Regions from separate parts of the Homo sapiens genome. Here region 2 is linked to region 1. A link means that fine-mapping ties the variant in region 1 to the expression of a gene that starts in the linked region. Tissue or cell type: whole blood. Region 1 holds a variant in brackets; the other region holds the start of a gene. Each region is shown on its reference strand, or each on the opposite one. Region 1 overlaps NPAT (nuclear protein, coactivator of histone transcription). Region 2 holds the start of H3C4 (H3 clustered histone 4).

Region 1 (8,339 bases):
AAAAAAGGAAATACTCTTTCCTTACTCATATCATACTCTTTTTTTTTTTTTTTTTTTAAGATCTTCTCATACAGTGCCTCCTTTATAATTTTTTCTCATGGTACCTTTTGTTCCTATGCTGTTACAGTTTTTACCATGCTTTCTTATGACTTTCTGTTCTATAGTTGGTTCCTTGACTAACCTCTCCAAGATTAGAGATTGGATCATTCATCTTTGTATCCCAGTAACCAAGTATGGTTGGTCTTCAGTAAATATGTGTTTAATGTTAAACAGTACACAATGAGATCAAGTGTCAATCATGCAAAATGTACTTGGCCCCATCTCACCTTTAAGAATATGTCAGATAAGTTGGGTGTGGTGGCTCATGCCTGTGATCCCAGCACTTTGGGAGGCCGAGACAGTAGATAAATTAAAGTCAGAAGAAATGTTAGAAGTTGAAAAGTTAGTGTTTCAAAATAAACTTCATTTTTGGAGCCAGTATGTTTTTTACCTATTGAAATATTAAACCTCTTTACTTTTTCCTTCTTTGTATCATCTGTCTTCCAAGCTTGGAAAACAAATTGACACTTGTGTAAAAAGTCATCAGTAACTAGAAAGTACCTGTAAATTTTTTGATACTCAGTAAATGGGAAACACAGCGTATCAGACTTCCACTTACTGGTATGCAAAGATGAGTTATTTTCTTGGCAAAATAAGTTTTATGGCAAAAATGACTACCTCAGAAGCTGAACATATTTACCATATCTGTCTACCTGCCTGATACTTTGCAGATGGTCAGTCTGGTCAGCCCGCTTTTTGTACATCCTATCAGAATGATGACCCATTAAATGCTTTGAAGAATAGCAACAACCATGATGTGCTTAGACAAGAAGACCAGGAAAATTTTTCCCAAATAAGTACCAGCATACAGAAAAAGGCCTTTAAAACAGCTGTACCCACTGAACAGAAGTGTGACATTGACATTACCTTTGAGTCCGTGCCTAATTTGAATGACTTTAACCAAAGAGGGAATTCTAATGCTGAATGTAATCCACATTGTGCTGAATTATACACCAATCAGATGTCCACTGAAACTGAAATGGCTATAGGGATTGAAAAGAACTCTTTGTCTTCAAATGTACCGAGTGAATCTCAGTTACAGCCTGATCAGCCTGATATACCAATAACTTCATTTGTTTCACTTGGTTGTGAAGCTAACAATGAAAACTTAATTCTCTCTGGGAAGAGTTCTCAACTTTTATCCCAAGATACTTCATTAACTGGAAAGCCATCTAAAAAAAGTCAATTTTGTGAAAATTCTAATGATACAGTAAAACTTAAAATTAATTTTCATGGTTCCAAGTCATCAGATTCTAGTGAAGTTCACAAGAGTAAAATAGAAATTAATGTGTTAGAACCAGTTATGTCACAGCTATCAAATTGCCAAGATAATTCTTGTCTTCAAAGTGAAATACTACCTGTGTCTGTTGAAAGTTCACATTTAAATGTATCTGGACAAGTAGAAATTCATCTTGGAGATTCGCTGTCTTCTACTAAACAACCATCTAATGATTCAGCATCTGTTGAGTTAAATCATACAGAAAATGAAGCTCAGGCATCCAAGTCTGAGAATTCACAGGAGCCTTCATCTTCTGTAAAAGAAGAGAATACTATTTTTCTCTCTTTAGGTGGAAATGCTAACTGTGAGAAAGTTGCACTGACGCCTCCAGAAGGCACTCCTGTAGAAAACAGTCACTCTCTTCCTCCAGAATCTGTGTGTTCTTCAGTGGGAGATTCTCACCCTGAGTCCCAAAATACTGATGATAAACCTTCTAGCAACAACTCAGCAGAGATAGATGCATCAAATATCGTCTCTCTCAAAGTTATCATTAGTGATGATCCATTTGTTTCCTCAGATACTGAACTTACCAGTGCTGTTTCTAGTATTAATGGAGAAAACCTGCCAACTATAATCTTGTCTTCTCCTACTAAATCACCTACTAAAAATGCAGAACTAGTTAAATGCCTATCTTCAGAAGAAACTGTAGGTGCTGTTGTATATGCCGAAGTAGGGGATTCAGCCTCAATGGAACAGAGTCTTTTAACATTCAAATCTGAAGACTCTGCAGTAAACAATACTCAGAATGAAGATGGCATTGCTTTTTCAGCTAATGTTACACCATGTGTTTCCAAGGATGGAGGATATATACAGTTGATGCCAGCCACAAGCACAGCTTTTGGCAATTCAAATAACATTCTGATAGCTACCTGTGTGACTGATCCAACAGCGTTAGGAACATCTGTAAGTCAGTCTAATGTAGTGGTGTTGCCTGGAAATTCTGCACCTATGACTGCTCAACCTCTACCACCTCAGTTACAGACACCACCAAGGTCAAACAGTGTATTTGCTGTCAACCAAGCTGTGTCACCAAACTTTTCACAAGGTAACTTTAATAACATAATTGAAATTTGTTTCTCTGGGTTGGGATCTAATTTCTTTTGTATGTGATGTTATTGACTGCGAAGTAATAACTAATGAGTAGATGGTATGAGAAAAGATTCTGAAATTTGTGATTACGCTGCTTCTTTATGCTAGCTAATTCAAACCTTTTTTATTTTTCTTAATCTGCTAGTAAGCTATGGGCTTTAGTGGTTTTTCTTTTTTCTTTTCACAAATACTTCTCAATCTATGTGCTAGTAAGTTACAATAAACAGAAAAGACAGACTAATTCATCACATAGTTGTATAAAACCCAATGTTGTGGGGGAGTTTTTAAAAATAGCTCTTATAGTCATGGTCTTCAGGGAATTCATCATCTTTTTGGAGAAATTTTCAAGAAAAACTTGAATTTCAGCCGGTTATGGTGGCTCACGCCTGTAATCCCAGCACTTTGGGAGGCCGAGGTGGGCCGATCGATCACCTGAGGTCAGGAGTTTGAGACCAGCCTCGAGAACATGGTGAAACCTCATTTCTACTAAAAATACAAAAAAATGAGCCAGGCATGGTGGCAGGTGCCTGTAATTACAGCTACTTGGGAGGCTGAGGCAGGAGAATCTCGTGAACCCAGGAGACAGAGGTTTCAGTGAGCCAAGATCATGCCATTGCACTTCAGCCTGGGCAACAAGAGCGAGACTCTGTCTCAAAAAAAAAAAAAAACTTGAATTTCTTCCTTTATAAAATCCTTTCTAATTGATCTCTGTCTTTAAAATCCTTTGTTTATGGCTGGGCTCAGTGGCTCATGACTGTAATCCCAGCACTTTGGGAGGCCGAGGCGGGCAGATCACCCGAGGTCAGGAGTTCAAGACCAGCCTGGCCAACATGGTGAAACCCCGTATCTACTAAAAATACAAAAATTGGCATGGTGGTGGGCACCTGTAATCCCAGCTGCTTGGGAGGCTGAGACAGAAGAATCTAAAGCTGGGAGGCAGAGGTTGCAGTGAGCCAAGATCGCACCACTGCACTTCAGCCTGGGTGACAGAGTAAGACTCTGTCTCCAAAAAAAAAAAAAAAAAAAAAAATCCTTTTTTCATAGGGGCTCTTGTGGCATTTATTGCGTGCTGTGTTATATGTAGTTAGTGATTGATATGCCTATCATATTGATAATTTTTTATTGTATGTTCCTCAGAGATAGTGCTCATGGCACATTTATTTACATTTCCTTATGTGTTGGTTCCCAAGCTTCCCTCTTTTCCCTTTTTGTTACATTATAGACATACAATAAAATTTCATTAAATATCAACAATTAGTATTAAACCTAATGGGTCTGTTTTACGTGCTGTTACAAATTACATAAAGGAGAGGTCAGAATTAATAGAGAATGTGGGGCTTGAGCTAAAGCTTAAAGAATGAAGGTAGGATTTGGAGTTAAAGCAAGGAAGTTTTTATAACTTATAAAATCTGTAAGTTATAAAGAGAAGCAGCACCAGCATAGACAGAGAGACCGTAGTAGGTTGCATGAAAATGAGGGGATCAACCTGACAGTAGTGTATTAGGCAAAAGTTTGTTTATGGACAGGACTAAATTACAGTAGCCACAAACTATGTTGTTGACTTCTGAGGACCATGTAGACATTGTAATTTTCCCTCCATAGTTTTGACCAGTTACGTGCTTACCTTACCCCCTTTTGATCAATACCATTGAGATATGTAATAGGTTGGGGTTACAAGTGTAGTCCTGGGTATAAATATTCAGTTGGGGTTGTAATTTTCTGGTGTAAGGTTCAGACTTGAAACATTCACCACTCATTTTCTAACTAGTTTCATTATTTCTAGAGGAATCCAGATATGATTGTAATATGATGTCTTGGCTGTAGAGTCTTATGCTTGATCAGCATGGTTCACTGACTGAATAACATTAAGACCACCTTAATATTTGGATTGACTTTTTCTTAATTTGTTAGCCTTGCTGTTTTTCCTAAAACTGTTTCAGTTTCGTTTTTTTTGTTTTGTTTTGTTTTGTTTTTGGAGAGTGGATCGTAAGGAAGAGGGATTGTTCATAGAATTTATTTCAAAGCAGTAATTAATTTGTGCCAAACATTTGTTTGTTTTGTGCCAAAACATTTCAGAGAAAATCTTTTTTTAACAAGAATTGTTTTTTTAGGATCTGCCATAATAATTGCCTCTCCAGTCCAGCCTGTACTCCAAGGAATGGTAGGGATGATCCCAGTATCTGTGGTTGGACAGAATGGAAATAACTTTTCTACTCCTCCTCGGCAGGTAAGATTTATGAACTGAAAATGGTGTGGTGATGCTTTTCAAGCTTAGTGTAATTAATGGCTTTTTCTCTTCCAGGTTCTTCATATGCCTTTGACAGCACCTGTATGCAATAGAAGTATCCCTCAATTCCCCGTCCCTCCAAAATCTCAGAAGGCTCAGGGACTAAGAAA[C/A]AAGCCTTGTATAGGTACCATTTTTAATTTCATTAATGTTAACTTTATGTTTGTATGTTCATTTGTTTGCAGCAACACCTAAATGTTTTCTTTCTGAATACCTAAACCATTTTAAAACAAGTGATCACCCTACATTTGCTAGTAACAGATGTCATAATGCAGCCAACTGTTACTGAACAGCTTTGGTTCTGAGAAAATTGTCTCCTTTGTTGAATCTGTTAGCTTTTGCCCAGTAGTCCTTGGTTTGTTCTTTGCAGCTTCCCTAAATTAAGTATAGTCCCTATTTTTCCCAACAGCTTTCAAGTGTTTAATGAATGCCTCGTATAATTGTATGAGACTTTAGAGCAGTTCTTCTTGTAGTTTAGTGTGTATATGAACTATTTGGGGATTTTGTTAAATGCAGGTACTGAATTGATAGGTCTGGTACAGCACCTGAAATTCCTCATTTCTAACAGCTTCTAAGCAATGCCAGTGCTGCTGGTACTGGACCACACTTGAAGCAAGGCTTTAAAGTTTGCAAATTACCTTCCTGTGTTCCCTGTTTTAGCCATTGTCCCAACCATCTGTTTACTTGTGAAAAACCTGGTAGTCACTCTTAAAACACATTTTCCTCTCCTTCTTAGTTCAAGTATTTGTCATTTTTCATCTAAGTTGTATCAATAGTGTCATGTAGTCTCCCTTCTTTTAGTCTCTGTTGTTTCAGTTCACCTCATATCTGCTGGCTGAGTGACTTTTTTTCCCTAAAATACAAATCTGAATATGTTGCTTTCCTGCCTAAAAACTTTCAGCAACTCCCCTTTGCCCAAAGGATAAAATTGAAATTTCTCAGGGTGACATATGTGCATACATTTGTCATCTAGTCACTCTCGACCTCTCCATCTCATCTCTTACCACTTCCCAGCATGGACCCTTTGTACAAACTATAGTTGCTGCTCACCTTATACTTGGTGATCTTTCTTGTCCCTGTACCTTTTACCAATGCTATCTCTTCTACCTAGAATTCCCCCTTCTTACCCAACTCTTACCCTCAATCTGGTTCTTATTTATCCTTCGAAATTAACTTAAATGTTCCTAGGAAGCATTTTTAACCAGCGGTGGCTGAGGTGGATATTCCGGTTTTATTTTTTTCTTTAATTCTTAGTGATACCTATGCTACAGCACTTAACACATTACATTGTATTTCTTCTCAGTAGTCTGAGTATCTTAAATGCACTCATTATACAGAGAACTCAACTAACTGCTATCAAATCAGCCTTTCCTTAAACTAAACAGTATACATCTATTGATGTAGGCTTAAGTTGCATTTTGACTTATTGAGGCACCCTCTTAGACTTATGTCCTGTTATAGCTACTCTATATTATTTTTATGTTCTTTCTTATAACTAGTTCATTCCTTTTAATGGCCATTTGATATCTATCACTTGCATAAATGTATTTTATATATGTCCTATCAGTGGACTTTTCAGATGTTTTCGATGTGACATGCAATGATATGAGGAACATCTTTGTAAATGCCTCTGTGTGAACCCATATGAGAGTTTCTTTGGGGGCTTATTCCCAGAAATCTTTGGGTATACTGGGTATAATAGAGAAGAAGTATATCTTCTCTATGACCCAGAATTTCTGAGTCATAGAGAAGAAAATTTATACTTCTACCATTATTTTCCCTGCTTCCCTCACAACACTACCAATATTTGATACCATGTGATATTTTAACTTTTGCCACTATGATGGATTTAAAGTGGTAGTATCTCATATCATTCTTTTACTTTATTCTGATTACTAATAAAGTTTGGAATCTTCTCTTATAACTATAAATAATATTTTCCCTTCTGTGAATTGCTTATTCATATCCTTTTCCTACTTCTCTATTAAATTTCCTGTCTGTTGAGGTGTTATACTTTTATTAGTAACATATCACAGATGTCTTCACAGTCTGACACTTGTTTTTATCCCTTACAAAGTTGATACCAGAAAAAAACATTGGTGAGGTTAAGCATCCATTTATGATAAAAGCTCTTAAAGGCTATCTATAGTAAACATCATGGGTTCCCTTTAAAGCTGTGAATAACACAAAGATACTCATTCCCACCCTGTATGTAATAAGCCAGTGTTTCCAACACCAGTAAATTAATTATTAAGTAATCAGTTTTTTGCCCCACTGACATCTGATTATACTTCCACCATAAACAAGGTCCCATACATCCATACATATGTGGTTCCAGACAATACAGTAAGAAAATGGAGCTGGGCATGGTGGCTCATCCCCATAATCCCAGCACCTTGGGAGGCTGAGGCAGGAGGATTGTTTGAGTCTAGGAGTTTGAGACCAGCCTGGGCAATATAGTGAGACCACATCTCTAGAAAATAAATTTTTTAAAAGTAGCCAGCTGTGGTGGCAGATAGTAGTCCCAACTATTCGGGAGGGTGAGGCAGAAGGATTGCTTAAGTCCAGGAGGTTGAGGCTGTAAGTAAGCCATGATCATGCCACTGCATTCCAGTCTGGGCAACAGTGAGACCCTGTCTCAGAAAAGAAAAGAGATAGGTGTAAAGATTTGAAGAGAGGGAATTAAACTGTTATGGAAAATGATGTGATTTTTACACAATAAAGCCACAGGGAGTTAATAGAAAAATTAATAGAACTAATAATTCAGTAAAGTTGCCAGGTATGGTTAATTAAAATTGTGTTTTAGGTGCCAACAATAAACACCTATTAAGTGTTATACAAAATAAGATACTGTTTATAATGACCACAAAAATGATAAAGTATAAAGGAAGTAACCTAACCAAAAATGTTAGAAATGGAGAATATTTGAAATCTTTCATAAAGGATGTATAAATAGAAGAGAACCATGTTCATAGATTTGAAAATTTAACAGTGTAAAGATTGCAATTATTCCAAGTTGAATCAAAAATTCAATGTAATTTTCCTTAAAAATCCCAGTAGAATATTTTGGGAGATGGGAAAAACTATAAAATCTATGAGAAAGAATAAAAGTCCATGACTAGCCAAGATAGAAGAGCAGAGGACAGACTCATTCTACCAAATGGTAAAATATTGCAGAGCCACAGTAATTAAAACAAAAAGACAAATGGAACAAGATAGTTTAGAAAGAGACCTTGTACATGGTAATGTTAACATCAGAAGTCAGAGCAAGATGGATGGTATAATATATGAAATGTATTGATCATTAAATATACAATATATAGAGAAGAAAGTAGATCCCTTCCTCATACAAAGATGAAGTCCAAGATGATTAAAGACCTAAAAGTAAAAAGTCAAACAATTAAATGATAGAAGAATGTATAAGAGAATATTTTTATGACATTAGGATAAAGGATTTATTTATTTTTTTATTTTTTTTTAGATGGGAGTCTTGCTCTGTCACTCAGACTGGAATGCAGTGGCATGATCTCAGCTCACTGCTACCTTCGCCTCCCGGGTTCAAGCGATTCTTCTGTCTCAGCCTCCCTT
Region 2 (8,339 bases), not on the chromosome of region 1:
GGGAAGTTGAAAAATAATTATGGGACGGGTGTGGTGGCTCACGCCTGTAATCCCAGCATTTTGGGAGTCTGAGGATGGTGGATCACCTGAGGTCAGGAGTTCGAAACCAGCCTGACCAACATGGTGAAACTCCGTCTCTACTAAAAATACAAAAAATAGCCGGGCATGGTGGTGCGCGCCTGTAGTTCCAGCTACTCGGGAGGCTGAGACGGGAGAATCGCTTGAACCCGGGAGCCAGAGGTTGCTGTGAGCCGAGATTGCGCCATTGCACTCTACTCTGAGCAACAATAGCGAAACTCCTCCTCAAAAAAAAAAAAAAAGTAATAATATAGAATACTATTCCTTTTTTCTTAACTGGGTTGAAATTCTAAGAATCTTTTATATATAATATTTTAAATATTTTTAAGATACAAAAACATTTTGTAAAAATTTTAAGTATTCTACACTGGATGCCATTCATAACAGTTTATGATCTTAAGTAAGGCTTGTAATTACCAAGAATACAGTAAAACTTCAGTATCTTTATATATGAGTATATAGAATAGAAAAATTGTATTTGTAAGTAGAATGACATAAATTATTTTTTCACTTAAAAATTACAACTTTTGCTTATTAGAATAAAATGAACACATATGAAGTCAACCCTGAAGGAAAAAAAGTCAAAAACAACTTTGAGGAAGTGACAAGAAAATATTTTAGGATTAGGGGTGTGTCTCATTACTCCCAAATGGTATTTTGCCAGTGGCCAAATTTTCTTTAACTAAACCAAGAACAATGTTGATTATTAGTGCTGCATCCAGGCTCGGGTGTTCACATTTTTTCAGTTTTCATGCACATTACTTGTCTTGCTTTCCTTATATTTTAAAGAATTTGATTACATTATTTTAACCAGCTAAATTCGCCAATGCTGCGATGACTAAACCGGAATTAAGGAAGACATTCCTTTCCCTCACACTATGTCAGTAGCAAAAGAGATATTTCAAAAGTTCTTTTCTTATGAAACCAATTTGACAAGGGACACATCACAGCACAACATAAGAAAAATGTGCTTATCAGCACAATGGGCTAGCCTTCTAACCAGCACTTGGGGTAAAACAAACATGCTACGGTTAAGTATAGCATTTTCCTTCAACCAGTCAAAAGAACTGTGGTCTAGACCTACACAGCAGCAACCCCCTCAAATGAGGATAAAACCAAACCTGTTGGTGGTAAACACGGAAAATATGCAGGTAATTACAACTCTATAGCTGAAAAAGTGGGTGGCTCTTAAAAGAGCCTTTGGGATTGGGTATGAAGACGTTAGAATTACTTAGAGCTGGTGTACTTGGTGACGGCCTTGGTGCCCTCTGACACGGCGTGCTTAGCCAGCTCCCCGGGCAGCAGCAGGCGTACGGCCGTCTGGATCTCCCTGGAGGTGATGGTGGAGCGCTTGTTGTAATGCGCCAGGCGGGAAGCCTCGCCAGCGATGCGCTCGAAGATATCGTTGACGAAGGAGTTCATGATGCCCATGGCCTTGGATGAGATGCCGGTGTCGGGGTGGACCTGCTTTAGCACCTTGTACACGTACACGGAATAGCTCTCCTTGCGGCTACGCTTGCGCTTCTTACCATCCTTCTTCTGCGCCTTGGTCACCGCCTTTTTGGAGCCCTTTTTTGGAGCAGGAGCGGACTTAGCAGGTTCAGGCATGATAAATAAACACTTCGTCCACAACCTAAAGAGAAATGCAAGTGTCCTCACTCTGCAGCTGGTAATATTTGTAGAGCTCCTATCGTAAACTGGCATTTAAAAGCTTACACATTGATTGGATGAATTGTCTCTGTGTGCCCTGTGGTATGCAAATTAGGTGATTCTAGCGTTTCTTTGCAATTGGTTGGTTGTTCTAGCCAATCAAATAGCGTTATTTACAATTCGACCTCCAAGTATAATAGTTTCTCACTTGCTAACAAAATTCACTTTTACATTTTTGTCTTCATTGCTTAACATCGTTTTTAAGAATTCAAAATGTCCGGACGCGGCAAGCAAGGCGGAAAGGCCCGAGCTAAGGCTAAGACCCGCTCTTCGCGGGCCGGACTCCAGTTCCCTGTGGGCCGCGTACACCGCTTGCTCCGCAAGGGCAACTACTCCGAGCGAGTCGGGGCCGGCGCGCCAGTGTATCTGGCGGCGGTGTTGGAGTACCTGACCGCCGAGATCCTGGAGCTGGCGGGCAACGCCGCCCGCGACAACAAGAAGACCCGCATCATCCCCCGACACCTGCAGCTGGCCATCCGCAACGACGAGGAGCTAAACAAGTTGCTGGGTAAAGTCACAATTGCTCAGGGCGGTGTTCTGCCCAACATCCAGGCTGTACTGCTCCCCAAGAAGACTGAGAGTCACCACAAGGCCAAGGGCAAGTAAAACGAGAACTCTTATATTGGCTTTTTAAGGAAGCAGTCTTAACAAAGGCTCTTTTCAGAGCCACCCATGTATTCCTTAAAAGGGCTCACATTTTCTGTGTAAATAGCTATTTTGCAGTTTTCTTTAATAATTTTTCCATTTATAAGTGGGTGTTCTTAACACTGAATCGTGAAACTAACCGTCCATTTTAAAGATGCCATAAAAATACATAAGCAAATTGGCGGGGCGCGGTTCCTTACGCCTGTAATCCCAGGACTTTGGAAGGCCAAGGTGGGCGGATCACAGGGTCAGGAGTTCCAGGACAGCCTGACCAACATGGTGTGAAGCCCCGTCTTTACTAAAAATAAAAAAATTTGTCGGGCGTGGTGGCGCGCGCCTGTAATTTCAGCTATTTAAGAGGTTGAGGCAGGAGAAAATGTTGAACCCCGGAGGCGGAGGTTGCAGTGAGTCGAGATCGCGCCACTGCACTCCAGTTTCGGCGACAGAGCGAGACTGTCTCAAAACAAACAAAAACCCAAAAAAGCAAACTAATTAAAATGCAAAGAGACTTTATGTCACATGTAATTTAAATCGATCAATGCAGCGGCTCGTTAGGATTGCAAAGCTGTTAAAAGGCCTGAGACATACAGGAGAGAAGTTAATGTTTGTCAGTGTTTACATTTACATAAAAATATAGTTAGTGACTTAAAGCAACAGAACCAGAACAAATGTTTTATTGTCTTTTGTATGCATCTTAATGATACGAAATAACCTGTAATTTGTAAGTATTTTTTGGGTTTGTTTTTGCAAGCCACTTTCAACTCTACTGAGCTAACCCTAATTAATTATCAATAGGAATACAAACCTACATCCCCTGGAGCCAGACGGCCCTTAGGTGGAGCTTCTTAGCACAGTGTTCAGCATGACTAAAAGGGCACACTGGTCTTTTTGTGCCATTTATAAATTTGGCTTTTTTTTTTTTTTTTTTTTACAGCAGATTACACAAATACCAGTTGAACTTGTAAAAGATAAGAGTGCTTTCATATGAGGATGACATATTGTGGTGAAATTAAATGTGTTCATGTAGCTTAACATCAGGTTTCATATTGTTACTTATGAGTTAATAGTCATGGTGCATTTGGAACAAATTATTGAAAATATCTCCAAGTTTAAATAGACAAATCAAGATATGAAATTAACCTTTCTAAACTTAAGAGGGTAAAAAGAAATCACTTGGCCAATCACAACTAGCGCGCGTCTTTTTAAAACGTTGATCAAAGCCAGTTTCAGCGCCAACATTTAAAAAAAAATTAAGACACGTCATCCTAGTAGCTAGACACAATTTTGCCAAGGAAAACCAAAGTACGTTTTAAATAAAAGCTAGAAACATGGCACAGAGGGGAAAGGGTTGAAAACACCAGCAGTTAAAGATGGACGGAGGAAAGTTTTAATATTTGGTCTACATGCAGGAGATGTTCTGTCAGGGAGTGGGCGTCTCCACCAATCGAGCTGCAGGGGAAAGGCTGCCTTGTCCAATCAGAACAGGGGTGTCTTTATATATACGGGTACGAAAGGCTAGACTTTCGTTTTTTCGTCATTTAGCAGGGTTTAGAAGTTCGCAATGGCTCGTACCAAGCAGACTGCTCGCAAGTCCACGGGTGGGAAAGCGCCACGCAAGCAGCTGGCCACCAAGGCTGCTCGAAAGAGCGCTCCAGCCACCGGCGGCGTGAAGAAGCCCCACCGTTACCGGCCCGGCACGGTGGCTCTGCGCGAGATCCGCCGCTACCAGAAGTCGACCGAGCTGCTGATTCGCAAACTGCCATTCCAGCGTCTAGTCCGTGAGATCGCGCAGGACTTCAAGACTGATCTGCGTTTTCAGAGCTCGGCGGTGATGGCGCTGCAGGAGGCCTGCGAGGCCTACCTGGTGGGGCTGTTTGAGGACACCAACCTATGCGCCATTCACGCCAAGCGAGTGACTATCATGCCCAAGGACATCCAGCTTGCTCGCCGCATTCGTGGGGAGAGGGCGTAAATTGTCTTGTGAATGTGTGCTAACCAAAACCCAAAGGCTCTTTTCAGAGCCAACCACCTTTTCTATAAAAGTTGCTGTTTACTGTTGCTGTCCGTAAACTGGAACCTCTGTTCACTCAAGGTAAGTAAGCATTCTTGCCTCTATCCGTTCCCCCTCCCCTCACGGAATTGGTGCAAAAAGCTTTATTATAATTGGGGAGTTCTTAAAACAGCCTTTAAGGTACTCTTATATCTCCTTGTTTTGGGGGCCGCTTTCTTAGGCTTGGATGCCTCCGGCTTGGGAACTTTCTTGGCCACCTTTGACCAACCAACCTTCTCCAGCAGCCTCCACCAGCAAAAGCTTTTGGGGTCCGCTTAGTACTCTTTTTCGGAATAAGGACGCCCCAAGCTTTCTTGGGCCTCTCGGCTGCCAGGACAGCTGTCTTGGGCATGACTGCAGCGGCTTTTCTGGCCTCGGTCTTGATTTTCCTAACACTGCCTGGTTTGGCGGGAATGAACCTGAGGCGCTGCACTCCTTAGCACGAAGATGCCCTCGTTTGTTTTCAAGGCCCAACTTTATTCAAATAATTTTTAAAAATTTGTATTTATTTTTAGGGACGAGGTCTCACTGTGTTACCCAGGCTGGCCTCAAAACTCCTTAGCTTGGCCAGGCGAGGTGGCTCAGGCCTGTAATCACAGCACTTTAGGATGCCAAGGCGGGCGGATCACGTGATGCCAAGAGTTCGAGACCAGCCTGCCCAACACATTGAAACTTCGTCTCTACTGAGAATACAAAAATTAGCCGGGTGTGGTGGCACACGCCTGCAGTCCCAGCTACATGGAAAGCTGAGGCAGGAGAAGGGCTTGAACCCGGGAGGCGGAAGTTGCAGTGAACCGAGATCACACCACTGCACTCCAGCCTGGGCAGCAGAGCTAGACTCCTTCAAAAAAAAAAAAAAAATCCCCAAGGACAAACAAAACCACCAAAAACAACTCCTTAGCTTAAGAGATTCTCCCGCCTTGGCCTCACAAAATGCTGAGATTACAAACGTAGGCCACCGCGACCGGCAAGGGCCGATCTTCATATCGTAGCCGCCAACACCTACTTGAGCGCGGCCACAGAGAAGGCCGCTGCGCTTCTTGGAGACGGCTAAGTCATTAGTGATGAACTCACATACCGGAGGGGCCTGGACATCTTGCACTTCACTGCAACTTCGGACTTGCAACCTTTTTCTTTACTTCAGTCTTTGACTTGGGAGATAGACCAGGAGTCACGGCATGTACAGTTTCGGACATGATTGTAGGTTTGGATATCTAACAGTTAAAAAAAAAAAAAGTCAGGCTGCGAGTGTGTCTGTGATTACGTGTGTGTCACACACAGACACGCTGCGCGCTGATTGGTTCCCAGCTCAGTCTTTCAGCTTGGCAGCAACCTAGTCTCAACCCTGTTTCTGAGTTGTGTTTGCGGAAATTCAGAAAATCAAAATAGTTTAAATTTCCTGAGGAGGAATCACACCAATTCTATTCTACAATGAACTGGAACGGCTACGGTGTTATGATCTTTACATTTTCTTTCTCTAGTTTTTACTTAAGGCAGCCTCGGCCTTTATCAAAAGTTCCAACTTTCAGAGATTCACAGTTCAGAGGGACAACTTCTTGATTTTCATTTAAAATATAAATTCTTCCATTCGTGTCTTCAATTGTTTGCTGTCTTCTAATAATAGCCTACACATTTTTGGCTTCTCATACATTGAACAACTACTTGATTTTCATTGAGATTTAACGAGGAAATCTGTTTTATATGAGAAGAGAAACAACAGGTTCTTTTTGAATTTCTCCACAAGAACAGCAGTACGGATACTTAGAACAACAGCCCTTTCTGATAAAATTAGCTGGGGCTGAAAATATTTCATGATAGCTTCTTGTAACTATTTGGACGTTTAGTTACTTTGGGAGGGTTCCAGTAAATGTTCAACGTTTCCTTGGGAAAATGGGAAATACAATGATCACTGATTCTCCTGATATTGGGACTGTTTGCATAGCTGAACTCAGGAGAGATCCACGAAAGGACATAAAAGAGACAGAGTTTGACTCATTTAAGGGTCAAAAAAAAATTTTTTTTTTAAATTTTTACTGGGGGAAATTTGTTATTAAAATATTCATGAGTCTTTGGGTTCAGGGGTCTGTCATGCTTGGTGACACGGGGAAAATAGACTTTGGTAAACTATTCAAGTACCAGGATCAAAGAATATACACACAAGCACCACACACACACAAAATTCCCTAGAGAGAGAAATTTAAAAAACAGCCATGTTTCATATTCAGTACTACATTTCTTGTTTAAACAAGGATATAGGCTTATAGTGATGAAGTACAGCTTATGTTCGATATGAGAAGAAAATGGAGTGATGGCAGAAAGTGAATTAACTGATTTTCTTCACTCCTCAATGTCTTGAACGTATGCTGATCTGGGGAGCATATACATTTCTGTTTTACTAAGACTATGAAGGAGATAAATGCTGGGAACAGACAGAGTAAAGCCCAAAAGGTGAGGGTTTCACACTTTTTGATCTCATCAAAATACAAATGACTTCATGTAGCAAATTAAACTAGGACATGAACAAATTAATAAATGTTAATAAAAATTAAAATCAAATGTTTGAGATGAGACATGAGCTAAATATGAATCACATTTACTTTGAGTGTGTATTCACTTTTTATGGAGCCCATGTATTTCTAATCTTAAAATGGCTTTGACCCATTTTATATTTATATTTTATACTTATATTTGATTTCCTGGAGCACCAACAAAGGAAGAACTGACTTGTAGCCTTCCAACTGCAGGAATTCTCTGAGGTACTGTCCTATTTGCCTTCATGGGTTTGTGAGTTAGTTTCTTACAGGTAACTAAAGTCTCTCCCTTCAGGCCTGTCCTCTTGCCTAAGTATCAAAGTTGGATTTCTGGATGGTTGCTGGATATCTGCTTGTTCATCTTCTATACCAGACTCTCAGTATGACCATCCTTATCTAAGTAGCTTCTGTCTAAGATTGCTGGATATTGGCTTCATTGTTTACGTATATCACACCCTCAACATATCCAACCACATCTAGGAAGCAACCTTTCAAGTGACATTCCTATATATTCTGTTCACAACAACACTATTGCTTTGTTAACTGACACTTCAATTATTCCCTTTCCTTTGTTGCCAAATCCAATCTGTTACTAAGTTTGGTGAATTCTTCCTAAATTCATCTTTCCTTGTTTATTTGCCTTTTCATGGTTGTAATTCTTGCTCTTCTATCTCTTCTTTGGACTGGCTATTTTTATAGCCTTCTTATGGGTGGCTCCTTTCTCTCATCCCTTTGTGCTGTCATTCATTCTCTTCATTGCTCTGGGTGAAATATTCTTCATATGAGCTTCAAATTTATATGCCCCATCTCCTTGTAGCTTTATGTTTTCTTCACTTAACTGGTTTTCTCTATTCTTATAAGCCGTGAAGAAAAAGCTGGATTCATATAGCTTTAGATTTAAGAATAATCTTAGTATGGCAATCAAACTCTTTTATATGGCCTTAAATCAACAATCTGGCAGTGTGGTTTAGTAGAAGCATGGAATTTGCAAACATGATGACATGTATTTCAGTCTTGTTTTGCCCCTTAGCAGCTATGTGATCTTGGTCTAATTATATTACCTTGCAGAGTATCTTTTTTCAGTTTTTTTCTTCTTTTTTTCTCTCTCCCCCACCCTGTTTTAAACTTCAAACTAATCTAATGACATACTTTGAAATTTTTATATTTTTCATTCCCCATCTCTCAAAATAGATGAGATCTCTCTCTGTTTTGAATTCTTACATTGATGTCTTTCTTTTTTTTCTCTTTTTGAGATGGACTCTCACTCCGTTGCCCAGCCTGGAGTGCAGTGGCGTGATCTTGGCTCACTGCAACCTCCGTCTCCC

The links.
Region 2: it holds the start of H3C4, and the variant in region 1 is fine-mapped to the expression of H3C4 in whole blood (TOPMed, PIP above 0.99).

Annotation. Positions count from the first base shown.
Region 1 is chr11:108,166,283-108,174,621 of GRCh38, reverse strand. NPAT (nuclear protein, coactivator of histone transcription) reads left to right here. Exons shown (of 18, transcript NM_002519.3): 13 at 771-2,423; 14 at 4,579-4,694; 15 at 4,770-4,878. Among named protein-coding and RNA genes, the nearest start is that of ACAT1, 49 kb to the right of the region's middle. The variant C/A (reference allele first, on the strand shown) is at 4,865.
Region 2 is chr6:26,192,906-26,201,244 of GRCh38, reverse strand. It overlaps H3C4 (H3 clustered histone 4), which reads left to right and starts at 3,959. Exons shown (of 1, transcript NM_001376937.1): 1 at 3,959-4,461. The coding sequence starts at 3,995. The coding sequence ends at 4,405. H2AC7 (H2A clustered histone 7) reads left to right here and starts at 1,952. Exons shown (of 1, transcript NM_021065.3): 1 at 1,952-2,461. The coding sequence starts at 2,002. The coding sequence ends at 2,394. It overlaps H2BC7 (H2B clustered histone 7), which reads right to left and starts at 1,729. Exons shown (of 1, transcript NM_003522.4): 1 at 1,257-1,729. The coding sequence starts at 1,686. The coding sequence ends at 1,306. It also overlaps the pseudogene H1-12P. RefSeq lists enhancers at 1,288-1,377, 1,369-1,988, 2,148-2,327, 1,261-2,460, 2,508-2,577 and 7 more.